3 separate regions of the Homo sapiens genome follow, and all the other regions are linked to region 1. The links come from fine-mapping of genetic effects on gene expression. A gene starts in region 1. Each other region holds a variant in brackets. All regions are shown on one strand. Distances are between the middles of the regions. Region 1 holds the start of FBXO10 (F-box protein 10). Region 2 overlaps FBXO10 (F-box protein 10). Region 3 overlaps FBXO10 (F-box protein 10).

Evidence for each region. PIP is the estimated chance that this variant, and not a neighbour inherited with it, causes the effect. A credible set is the group of variants that fine-mapping cannot tell apart.
Region 2: its variant is the best candidate, but not a certain one, in a credible set for the expression of FBXO10 in blood mononuclear cells (TOPMed, PIP 0.74).
Region 3: its variant is the best candidate, but not a certain one, in a credible set for the expression of FBXO10 in whole blood (TOPMed, PIP 0.78).

The regions. Positions count from the first base shown.
Region 1 is chr9:37,574,332-37,578,570 of GRCh38, forward strand. FBXO10 (F-box protein 10) reads right to left here and starts at 2,049. Exons shown (of 11, transcript NM_012166.3): 1 at 1,880-2,049. RefSeq lists a silencer at 1,703-2,082.
Region 2 is chr9:37,532,345-37,536,583 of GRCh38, forward strand. All of the region lies in intron 3 of FBXO10 (F-box protein 10), which reads right to left. Among named protein-coding and RNA genes, the nearest start is that of FBXO10, 42 kb to the right of the region's middle. The variant TGA/T (reference allele first, on the strand shown) is at 2,343.
Region 3 is chr9:37,539,124-37,543,362 of GRCh38, forward strand. It overlaps FBXO10 (F-box protein 10), which reads right to left. Exons shown (of 11, transcript NM_012166.3): 2 at 2,061-2,651. The coding sequence starts at 2,645. Among named protein-coding and RNA genes, the nearest start is that of FBXO10, 35 kb to the right of the region's middle. The variant C/G (reference allele first, on the strand shown) is at 1,597.

The DNA.
Region 1 (4,239 bases):
ACCAGAGAACGGAAACTCATGGTGACCTGGTGACTGCTTGAGCATTTATTGCTTAACAGCTACTTGTGCGATCATAAAAATACAATTCCCCTGATAACCACGGCAACCAAAATGATGGCACTATGGTGAAGGCGGCTCTTCTCAGAAATCTAAAAACAATAATAGGCTTGAAACCAGAAAGACAAAGAAATCCAAGTGCTCCAGGGCAGAAGGAAATCCTTTCTTAAAAGCCCTGATAAAGCAGCTTTTTCTCCAGTCTCTCAAATCTCACCAGGCTCCAGCAAGGGCTCTGGAACTGGTGTGAGGGATCAGGAAACAATTCAGGCCTCTCTGTGTGCTCCTATCCCTGGAGGCCAGCTGTTATGAGGTAAGCTCACTGGGAGCTGCAGCTTATTGTTATTTTAAAATGTACTGAGAACGGGCAGGGAGATGGATATATATATAAAACATTATATAACCTCAAACTAACATAGCTAGCTCTGGAAAAAGCCCCTTGAGGACAGGGACCATGTGTGTCTTGTTCACAGCTCTATGTCCAGATCCTAGTAGGTGTACAAGACAGAGTAGGGGTTCCATATAGCTGCTGAATAAATGCGGAATGAGATTAGAACTGAGGGAAAGCACAGTGCCTGGTAAAAGGTCCATCCTCTCCACTACCCACTGCCAGCACTCTGTTGGGTCCTGAGCAAAATCAAAGTCCTGTCGTCCTTCTGGGTCCAGTCTCTCCATTTGCAAAGGAGACAGCTGGATTAGATGGTTTCCCAGGCATCCTCCAGCTCTGACAGTCAATCACCGTACTGTGTTTTTTTTTTCGGTGGCTACACATGCCTGGCACTTTTCTCTCCCCTCAGAGGGAATCTGATACCAATCTGCTCAAGTAAATTGATGTTCCCATCCAGCCTGACTCATATGGTAGGAACAACAGGTTCATATGCCAATTGTAAAAGAGAAGGCAAAGGGGGCCCAGAATGAGAAAAAGAAAAGGTCTTACAAACCAAAACGGCAGTTTTCAGGACTAAAAATATAGAAACAAATGTGATTATTCTGCTGAAAAAGCCCTTCACGTGGGGCAATCTCTAGCTTACTAATAATGCTTATATTAACAGCATTATCTACTGAGGCTTTTGTGCCAGACACTGTGTGCTAAACCCTTTACAATTAATCCTCCCAGCAACCCATGAGCTTATTACCTCCTTTTCACAGATGAGGAATCAATCTGGCTGAAGGTCACAAAGCCAGTAAGTGGCAGAACTGTGATCTGAACCAGAGCTAACTGACTCCAGAGTTCTGGCTCCTCAAATGACTTTCCCCTCTGTTCTTCACTGTAGTCCTAAGAGCGAGGCAGGACAGGGGTTATCACTTTTTGTTTAAAGATGAAAAAACCGTCTGAGAGGCTTGAGATTTGCATAAAATACACAGTGGGTGCCCAGCCCCATATTTGCCCCTTGAGATTTGCATAAAATACACAGTGGGTGCCCAGCCCCATATTTGCCCCTGCGTTCCTAGGTGAAGGCTCTTCCCATCCCAAGAGTCAGCTTCTTCTTCTTCGACTTTACTTACACACTCGAAAAATCTCAGGGCTGGAGGCACCGCGGAGATACATGCTCCGCGTCCGGTAGTTTTACGGGAGGGTAAACCAAGGCATAGCTCTCCGTCGGCGCGCCTGAGCCTCCGGATGCCGGGGGACCGCGGAGCCGCGGGCGGCCTGAGGGTACGCCTCATGGTCCTGCCAGACCCCTGATGCCCGAAGCCCGACCAGACGCTCAGCCTCGGCCAGGACTGAGCGGCGCCTCCTGGGTCGGTCGCCTGGGGAAGCGCCCCGGGTCCCCTCCCCCGGCCGCCCAAGTTCGCCCGCAGCCTCTGCGCACCGGCCGCTTACCTCACAGGGCGCTCGCCCACCGCGGAGTCCGGGCCGCGGCCGCCGGTGCCCTGGAAGCCACCCGCCGCCCCCGCTGGAGCCGCAGCAGCCGGTAGGATTGCGGCGTGCGGCCAGCCCCGCCCGGGGGCGGACAGCTGCCTGGGGATCGTGCGGAGCCGCCGCCGTCATGTGACGCGCAAGGCGGCGAAGGATGCCGGGAGCAGCTGGCTGGCCGGGGCTGGGCTTCCCGACCACCGCGCATAAAAGCTGTATCTGCAGGAGGGGCACCGGGAGGCGGGAGGAAGGCAGACGAGGAGGGGGCGCGTGGGGCTTCGGGTACTGCAAAGGCGAGCTTGCGGAAGGACGATTCAGGCTCGTGTTGCGTGGCCCCAGAAGGGGCAGAAATAGAACCAGTGGGTGGAAACTGCAGGGAGGCATGCTAAGGCCAATACAGTGTAAATAAGATTCCTGCGAGCACCAGTTATCTAACAGTATAAGGAGCAGTTTCCTGGGGTGCTAGGCACCCTGTAGATGAGCATGTAGGGTCTGGGTTCATTCACTGAACAAACTGACCATTGGCTACCTGCCAGACAATGTACTAGGAGTACATATTAAATTAGTTGTATGTATGGCGCTTAGCATAATGCCTGCCACAAAGTAAATGCTGTATGTTTGTTGCTGCTGGTGCCGTTACTATTATGGGCACAAAAGTGAACAAAGCAGATATGGTTCCTCTTCTCCTGAAGTTAATTCTGTAGTGGAGAAGGTAGACGGTAATCAAGTGTCATTTAAACCAATATGTGTTTAAAATTGTAGAAAATGCACGGAAGGAGCTGTAATTTAAAAATAGGGGCCAGGTGTTCATGCCTGTAATCCCAGCGCTTTTGCAGGCCGAGGCTGGAGGAAAGATCACTTGAGCTCAGGAGTTCGAGGTTAACAGTGAGCCATGATTGTGCCACTGCACTCCAGCCTGGGTGACAGGGCGAGACTCTTGTTTCAAAAATAAAACTAAATAAATTAGGGACCAAGGAAGGGTAGTCAAGGAAGACCTCTCAGAGTAAGATAAAGAGTTAGCCAAATGGAAGAGGGGCAGGGTAAGCCCTGTGAAAACTCTTGGACCAGGTGGGTTGGGTTGGAGGAGAAAAGATCGCTCTTTGTGGAAATGGAAAACGTCTAGCTTGTCTGAAGCTTTTTAACGGGAAGAACAATATAAGTGAGGTCAGAAAGGTAGGTAGGGGCCAGATCACGCAGCACTTAATAGGCCATGATAAGGATTTTAAAATTGTACGTAACAGGAAGCCATCGAAGGGGTGGAGGATTTGATACCTTTTAAAGCAGTATGTCAGCTACTATGTGAAGACAGGAGTTAAGGGTGGAAGCAGAGATTGGTAGCTTAACCTATTAACTGGGCCCGTGGAGGTGCTATTTATTGAAATGGGAACTATTGTAAGGGGAATATATTTGGAAGCGGGGGGAGATCAAGAACTCCCATTTGAACTTGTTAAATTTGACACTGCCAGTTAGAATGACTATTAACAAAAAGACAAAAAAATAACAAATGCTGGTGAGGACATGGAGAAAAGGGAACTCTCATACACTGAATTATACAGCCAGTATAGAAAAATGCATGGAGGTTTCTCAAAAAAGTAAAACTAGAACTGCCATATGATCCAGCAGTCCCACTGCTGGATATTTATCCAGGAATGGAAATCAGTATGTCAAAGGTATGCCTGGATCCCCATGTTTATTGCAGCACTATTCGCAATAGCCAAGATATGGAAGCAACCTAAGTCTTCATCAACAGATGAATGGATAAAAAGAATGTGGCATATATACACAACAGAATACTATTCAGCCTGTCATTTGCAGCAACACAGATGGAACTGGAGGTCATTATGTAAAGTGAAATAAGCCACGCATAGAAAGACAAATATCACATGTTCTCACTCATACGTGGGAGCTAAAAAGTTGATCTCATGCAGTTGGCAAGTAGAATGACAGTTACCAGAGGCTGGGAGGGGAAGGGGATAGAGAGAGGTTGGTTAATGGGTACAAACATGGATAGAAGGAATAAATTTTAGTGTTCAATAGCACAGTAGGGTGACTGTAGTTAACAATAATTTATTGTATATTTCAAAATAGCTAGATTTAAATGCTCCCAATACAAATAAATGATAAATTTTTGAGATGGATATTCTAAATACCCTGATTTGATCATTACGTATTGTATGCATGAGTCAAATATCACATGTACCCCATAAATATGTACAATTATCTATCAATTAAAAATAATTAATTTTGAGATGCCTGTGTGTCATCCAAGTGGAGTGATTAAAAAAGCAATTCACGGCTGGGCGTGGTGGCTCACGCCTGTAATCCCA
Region 2 (4,239 bases), 42 kb before region 1:
GGCTGGAGTGCAGTGGCATGATCTCGGCTTACTGCAAGCTCCGCCTCCCAGGCTCACGTGATCCTCCCACCTCAGCCTCCCAAATAGCTGGGGCTACAGGCTAATTTTTGAATTTTTGTTTATTTTTATTTTTACTATGGATGTGGGCTGGAGTAATTTTGTTGTTAACTTTTCTATTTTTTGTAGAGATGGAATCTCACTATGTTGCCCAGGCTGGTCTGGAACTCTTGGGCTCAAGCAATCCTCCCACCTTGGCCTCCCAAACTGCTGGCATTACAGGCATGAACCACTACACCTGGCCCACACTGGTCCTTTAACTAAAACCTGGACCAAAGCTTGGCCCTGTGCTCTATATTCAGAACCTGCAAGCAGCATAGCTGGATGATGGGATAGAAAGGACGCTTAGGGGAAGATGGGACTGAGTGGTCTTCAAACTTTACATGCACTAAGTTTGCATGAAGATTTCCCCAGGGGTCGAGGGTGCAGCTACTTTTAATGAAATAAAGTTCCAGGTCCACCACTTCCAATGCACCTTCACTAAAATCCACCTGTCTGAGACGGCACGGACAGTAAGGTACCACACAGGTTCTCCTCTCCCACCTTCCCTTCCACTTTATAAAACAAAGGCCTGTTCTTGCACATCCTAAATCTTTCATGGTGTATCACCCTGGGGTGGAAAACTACTGAGACTCCAAATGAAGGGATGATTAGAGATATTGGTATAACAAAGCCTCCTTCAAACAAGTTCCCATAACCAGCAACCTGCTAATAAAGGGATATATTTCCAATTACATTTTCTTTTTATGTTTAATAAGTACAGTTGTCTCCCCCATGTCTGTGGGTTCTGCATCCATGGATTCAACCAACTGTGGATTGAATATACATTATTAAAAATAATAAATAATAAAATTGAAAAACAGGCCAGGTGTGGTGGCTCACGTCTGTAATCTCAGCACTTTGGGAGGCCGAGGTGGGCGGATCACTTGAGGTCAGGAGTTTGAGACCAGCCTGGCCAACACGGTGAAGCCTCGTTTCTACTAAAAATACAAAAACTAGCCAGGCATGGTGGCAGATGCCTGTAGTCCCAGCTACTCAGGAGGCTAAGGCAGGAGAATCTCTTGAATCAGGGAGGCAGAGGTTGCAGTGAGCCGAGATTGTGCCACTGTATTCCAGCCTGGGCGACAGAGTGAGACCTTATCTCAAAAATAAAATAAAATTGAATTAAAAAAAACAACAACAGTATAGGCTGGACGTGTTGGCTCATGCCTGTAATCCCAGCACTTTGGGAGGCTGAGGCGGGCGGATCACCTGAGGTCAGGAGTTTGAGACCAGCCTGGCCAACATGGTGAAACCCCATCTCTACTAAAAATACAACAAATTAGCTGGGCGTGGTGGCTCATGCCTGTAGTTTCAGCTACTTGGGAGGCTGGGGCAGGAGAATCGCTTGAACCCAGGAGGCAGAGGTTGCAGTGAGCTGAGATCACATCTTTGCACTCCAGCCTGGGCTAAACAGTGGAGACTCCGTCTCAAAAAAAAAAAAACAAAAAAAACACAACCAACAAACAAAAAAACCCAGTAGAAGAGCTATTTACATAGCATTTGCATCGTATTGGGTATTATAAGTAATCTAGAGATGACTGAAGTGTGGGAGGATGTGTGCAGGTTAGGTGCAAATACTATAACATTTTATATAAGGGATTTGAGCATCTGTGGATTTTAGTATCCTGGAACCAAGCCCCCACGGATACCAAAGCATGATAATATATAAAAAATCTGGAATGTTTATCTATGCTGTCTTAAACAATTATAGATTAATAATAAAATATATTATTATAAATTGTGTACTACTAATAATATATTGCATTAGGACAAAATTCTGTGAAGACTAAAGTAGAACAAGAGTATAAATGGTAAGGTTTCAGCTTCTGCTTAGGATGGAGAAAGTAGAAAGAATATACACAAACATGGACTTTCTGGTGGAACCCATCAGAGCTGAGGCTGCTGGACAACCGGCTAGCCTGAATGCTACAAAAAGACAGGTGCCTTTCGGAGCGTGCAGTGAGCCCAGATCGTGCCACTGCAGTCCGGCCTGGGTGAAAGAGTGAGACTCCGTCTCAAAAAAAGAAAGACAGGCGCCTCCAAGGAGACGAGGCCTGAGCACTTCCCTGCTGAATGCAGGGCTGCATGTGTCATACAAGCCAGTAAGAACTCAGCTAACATTTTCAATGCACTGTTAAAGACCAGCTGTGAATTAGTGTGAGTGCAGAAACTCTGGGAGTAGCTGCACCTGTTCACTTCTCTGTGGCCTTCACTAGGTGTTCATGGAGAAAACTGGGGGCAGA[TGA/T]GAGACTGGAGACAGCACCCTCCTGACGCAGGCTGGGGACAAAAGTGAGAGAGGCATTAAGCCCCTCTCCTGTGTTCTTTCCCCCTAACTCTCTTACAAAACAAACCGTATGCACAGAGAAACAGCGGGAAAACACTCTTATCTCTGGGGGTGTTGGGAGGAAAGTGACTTAGGCCCAGATCATCAGAGGTCCCCTAGTGCTGGGGGTAGAGCCAGGGTCACTGAAAAAGTCCTGCTCTCAAGACCACAGACACAGCACCTACCTAGACTAAGGATGACCCAGGACAAGAGAGAAACCCTGCCATCACGTAGGGTGACAAATAATGGCAGTCTACTGCTGAGGGAGGGCGAGAGCAGCGGAGATCGCCTCTGAGCAGCAGGCACAAAGGAAGATCTGAAGCGGAGAAAACTAGCACGAGGTAATGCTGGAGAGAGCTGAAGCCTACGGGACGCTGAGGATAATCCTATCATCACCATAATTCAAACGGGCTCAGCTCCTAACTAGATCGACCTCCTAAGAGCCAGGCAAAAGAAGAGGTGTGCCCATTTCCAAACTAAATACTACAGAGCTCAGTCCCCACTGTCCTACATGAGATATCTGACTTCCAACTAAAATTTATGACACATAAAGAAGAAAATCACAGTCGGTGACACTTCTTTTTTTTTATTTTTTTTTTGGAGACGGAGTCTTGCTCTGTCACCCAGGCTGGAATGCAGTGGCGCAATCTTGGCTTTCACTTGCAACCTCCACCTCCCGGGTTCAAGCAATTCTCCTGCCTCAGCCTCCCGAGTAGCTGGGACTACAAGTGCCCGCTGCCATGCCTGGCTATTTTTTTTTTATTTTATTTTAGTAGAGACGGGGTTTCACCGTGTTGCCCAGGCTGGTCTCGAACTCCTGAGCTCAGGCAATCTGCCCGCCTCAGCCTCCCAAAGTGCTAGGATTACAGGCTTGAGCCACAGCACCCGGCTGACACTTTTCTTCTTGGAGCCTCAAGCAACCAGGCTCCTCCTGCCAGCCTTTACCCTCCTGGGATGTTCTAGAGGACAGAGCCAGGTGACAGCCTTCTGTGGGGGAGCAAGGATCAAGGCCTTGCTTGAAAGGGTGAAAGGGTGTGTCTCCCCTTACTTCTGGGCCTTCACACACACCTCCTTTGCCTCGCGTCTTCACCCTGCCGACTTAAGGGGCAGAGCCAGACTTTAACTAGAAAGCCATATTCTCAATAACTATGCAAGGAAGAATGCCCTCCTTGAGGGCTTGAGCCAGATCCTTTCATCGTGGTAGTCACGACAGCAAAGCTATTACCTTTCCCTTTTTATTTGGCCATTTTCTTTTATGTATGTGTACAGGAGTCTTGCATTATGCTTTCAAAGTAACATCACCTGAAATCCTCTTTGGAAGTGGGCTGGGTAAAACACAATTAAATTTAAATTAATTAAAATGTGATTGCTATTAACCATTTTAGAAGCCTGCAACACTCATGAGTGACCTTTGTACAATGTTCTTTAGTTTACTGAATACTTCCGGCATGGGACCTTCCAATAGCCAGTGAGAGAAGAAAAATAGGGATGCTTATTTTCATTTTACGAAAGTGAAGGTCATGTTCATAGTGAGTTAGTGGAGAGGTGAGACTCGAATCTAGGTGCTATGCCATGCTTTCTTCTGCATGGGCTGTCTTTCCCTTCAGAAGGCCTTCCTGTCATCAACCATTTACAGGATTTGCAGATTGTCCTGTGGTGCCCTAAGTCCCAGCACATAGAAGGTGTTGATTGTCGCAGTGGCTAGAAGGACTGTTCTTAGCATAAGGCCCAAATGTCTCAAGGGGGATTCCAGGTCTGGGTAAGGTAGCTTTTGCTCACCCCCAGCTTCATCCTTCAACCTAGCCCCACCGCATGGT
Region 3 (4,239 bases), 35 kb before region 1:
AATCCAGACGTACCTACCCCTTGAATAAGTTTTAAAATTGACCTTTGATAGATTGTCCCAGAATTTAAGCCCCCTTAACTTTTCTAATTTCTTCCTTATGGCTAACCTAATTTTTCCTTGCTATTTAAATCCATTTTCTCTCTAAAGATAAAAAAGCCAGCTCTCTGGAGATGCAGAGCCACTGCTAAGGTTCTCCTTAGAAGTCACTGAAAACTGCTGTGAAATCGCCTTGGCCTTTGCATTTTTCAGGCAAAGCCATCCCAGGCCCCCATGTCTCCTTTAGTTGAAAAACAATCATGGACTGAACACTAACTAATATATGTTATATGCTAAGCACTAAGCCACAGGGCAGGCTACAAACAAGTCTAACGCCAGGCCTCATCCCTTGAGGATCTATGACTATACTTCTGAGGGAGAAGTAGAGGCTGAAATCAAAATATTACTCTAAGAATAAATGTATTACAAAATGTGAAGGGTCTGGAACATTATTTCTTTCTAGAAACAAACTCTCCTTCTGGGCCTGCAGACCAGCACCAGAGAAGTTCATCAGTTCTTCTGAAATGCTCTAGGGCTAAAACACAAGCTTTTAAGCTTTCAGGTAACATAGCATGATGTAATTTTATAAGCATTTAGATGAGAAGGCCTGAATTTGAGATCTAACTTCCCTAATTACCCACTTGAGAAAGTTACTTACCAACTGTGACCTTCAGTAGCCCTCATTTGCAAAATAGGCATACCACATCTACTTCACCTACACAAATGTTTGCTGTGGGGGTCCAATGAGGTCACAGATGGAAAGTCACCTAGATTATGAATAGACTTTGGATCTTACTAAGTCTGAGACCTTGATGTCACTTAATCTTGCTGAGCCTCAGTTTTCTCATCTATAAAATCAGATGACATTACCTATCTCAGAGGCATGTGGAGAGGAACCCATGAGATAATGGCTATAAGGCATATGGCATGCACACACTACATCTGTCACAAATGACCAGTGGTATAAGGATCATTACAAACATGAGAGACAATTGTTATTGGCAATATACTTTTAAAAATCATATATATATGATTTTTTTTTTTTGAGACAAAGTCTCACTCTTGTCCTCCAGGCTGGAGTGCGATGGCACCATCTCAGCTCACTGCAACCTCCGCCTCCCGGGTTCAAGCGATTCTTTTGCCTCAGCCTCCCGAGTAGCTGGGATTACAGGCACCTGCCACCATGCCCCGCTGATTTTGTATTTTTAGTAGAGACAGGTTTCACCATGTTGGTCTCGAACTCCTGACCTCAGGTGATCCACCTGCCTCGGCCTCCCAAAGTGCTGGGATTACAGGTGTGAGCCACTGCACCTGGCCAAAAATCTTTTATTTTTTATGAGCAGGCAGGAAAGCGATATAATTTTTATTGACTACCTACATAATCCAAGTTTCTAGGCAATGTATAAGCTATAGACTGTTCTGCCAGGAACTACCAACACCTGGATACCTGCTTTACTTTGAACCATCTTCTGGCTCTGCATTCACGGAAGGAATATGTTGGACAAATATTTTCTAACCTTCTCACCATTGCCCTTGAGAACTAGCAAATCATGGTAAAAG[C/G]CTGCCCTTCCTTGATCCCACACAGGGTGGGGTTCATGTGCTGAAGGTGACTAGTCCTGTATAGCCTTTTTCCTCTGTGGCTCTCACTCTGGGCATGCCTCCATGAGCAGCTAATGGGCTCTCTGCTTCCTGTCACCAAGTGGCATGCTTCCAGAACCTGGCTTTCCCGCCGCTGCTAGACTGGTGGCTCCAGTTGGTCCAGTTGGAAAGGGAAGAGGTGCAAAAGAATTTTGGTTCCAAGCCCAAGCCATTTTTAAATACTGCTTTACCAAGAATAAAGCAGAATTCTGAACTCTACTGATCACTGTGCCTGTTTCTCAACTGGTTCAGCACTCAGAGGAGTATGAGTATAATAATAACTCTTAACTTTCAATTCCAACAAAAAAAGGGATTAAAAGCCCAGAAAAGAGGGCAAGCCTCTGGGGTCAGAACTAGAAAGGCCGTCTATTGATGTGGATACCCACCTTATACATGATGGGTGAGAACCAGGCTGGCGTGAAGACGAGGTTGCACAGGCGTGTGGTTGAGCAGTGCTGATCAATGCTGGCCAGCAGGGCCACTTCACCCAACTTCCCCTGCCCTACAATCTCCACAGGCACCTTCAAGATGATTTCACCTTGCTCTTCGTACACACCTGGGAAGAGCACAATTCGGTCATACAGGCTGGCCATGGCCAAGGCACTGCCCAGGCTGTCAAACTCACGGCCTGGCCCAACACTCAGGGTACGTCGTTCCCTCCTCCGGCGGAATAGAGAAAAGCAGATGGAAGACTCCAAGTCCAAGGCATTCTTGGTCCATGTCTTGGATGCAAGGTAATGCTGCTTGAAGGCTTCTCTCCAAGACTCAGGCTCCACATCTGGCTGGTTGGGCCAATTGGGATGGCGGCACTCGGTGCAACCCAGACACAGCTGCCGCCAGCGGGTGCTGTCGAGACTGAGGATCAGTTCATACCAGGCCCTGCATACCAGGCTGCAGCGGCCCAGGTCGGGAAGGTGCAAGTAGGCTAAGATCATGCGCCACAGCTCCAAGGGGAGGCCACCAGCCTCCATGGTCACCTAGGAGACAGACACAAAACAAAAGAGATTTCTGTCTATCCTACTTACCAGTCCCCCTTTTTTATTTTTTTGAGATGGAGTTTCACTCTTCTTGCCCAGGCTGGAGTGCAGTGGTGCGATCTTGGCCTCACCATAACCTCCACCTCCCAGATTCAAGCAATTCTCCTGCCTCAGCCTCCCAAGTAGCTGGGGTTACAGGCATGCACTACCACAACTAGCTAATTTTGTATTTTTAGTAGAGACCAGGTTTCTCCATGTTGGTCAGGCTGGTCTCAAATTCCCGACCTCAGGTGATCTGCCCGGCTTGGCCTCCCAAAGTGCTGGGATTACAGGCGTGAGCCACCACACCCGGCCTCCAGTCCCTTTCTTAAAATACCCCCTGCCATCTCCTGAGCCCAAGGGTGAGCAAATAAACAAGGCTCAGCCAGTCAGAGGACTCCATCCTTTCAATGTGAATCCTACTCTAGATTTTTCCACCAGGAATTAGCAAGGAAGACTCTCTTTTCTCTATGGTCAGATGTTATAAAGATATGACTCCAGGCCGGGCGCAATGGCTCAGGCCTGTAATCCCAGCACTTTGAGAGGCTGAGACAGGTGGATCACCTGAGGTTGGGAGTTCAAGACCAGCCTGACCAACATGGAGAAACCCTGTCTCTATGAAAAATACAAAATTAGCCGGGCATGGTGGTGCATGCCTGTAATCCCAGCTACTTGGGAGTCTGAGGCAGGAGAATCGCTTGAACCCAGGGAGGCAGGGATTGCAGTGAGCCCAGATCGTGCCATTGCGCTCCAGCATGGGCAACAAGAGCGAATCTCCATCTCAAAAAAAAAAAAAAAAGGATACGACTCCGGAACTGCCAGGTTCACCACCATGTGGAGGAAACCTTCTGGTATAAGAGCCAAACAGAAAGATGACCTTTAAAAAGAGGAAGAAAACAAGGTGAGCACATGTGTGTGTGTATCCTGATAGTACTGATTCCAGATTCTTAAAGATGTCTTGGAATCTACAGTTCTTCCTTCAATTTTGTAGGATATCCCAATGGCCTTCTACTAAATCCCCCTTTTGCTCAAGCTAGTTTGATTTGGGCTTCTGTGACTTGCAACTAGAAGAGTCTGGACTTCTAAGAGGGAACCCACCTTTGGCTGTTAGGGTCCTAGAGCTCTGGATCCCCTACACTCTCAAGGAAGAGACCTCTATCTCTTTACACTATTAGGAATGAGAACTGAGGCAGTGACTGTCCATCTGTCTGTCTCTGCTTGTTCCCAGATCAAGTAATTACTGTTTCCCCACGTGGGGCAGCCCCAGGACAGACTACTGCTGAGTCAGATGCTGTGGGTTTTGGTCCTGGCTCTGCCATTGGTTATCCTGAGCAGTTAATTGGTTATTCTGAACACCTATGGGCTGGCTGCCCAGCCATCTACCTACTTGCTTTTTCTGGAAAATCTTCTTCTCCCCTACCAGTGATTTATATCACATGATTATAGAGGTAAGGTTCCCAGCAGATGTATATGTAGAACAAAGGATCCCCGACCTCTTGACTGCAACTGATTGGACTCTGGATGGTTCTAAAGGGGCCATCGAGCCCTT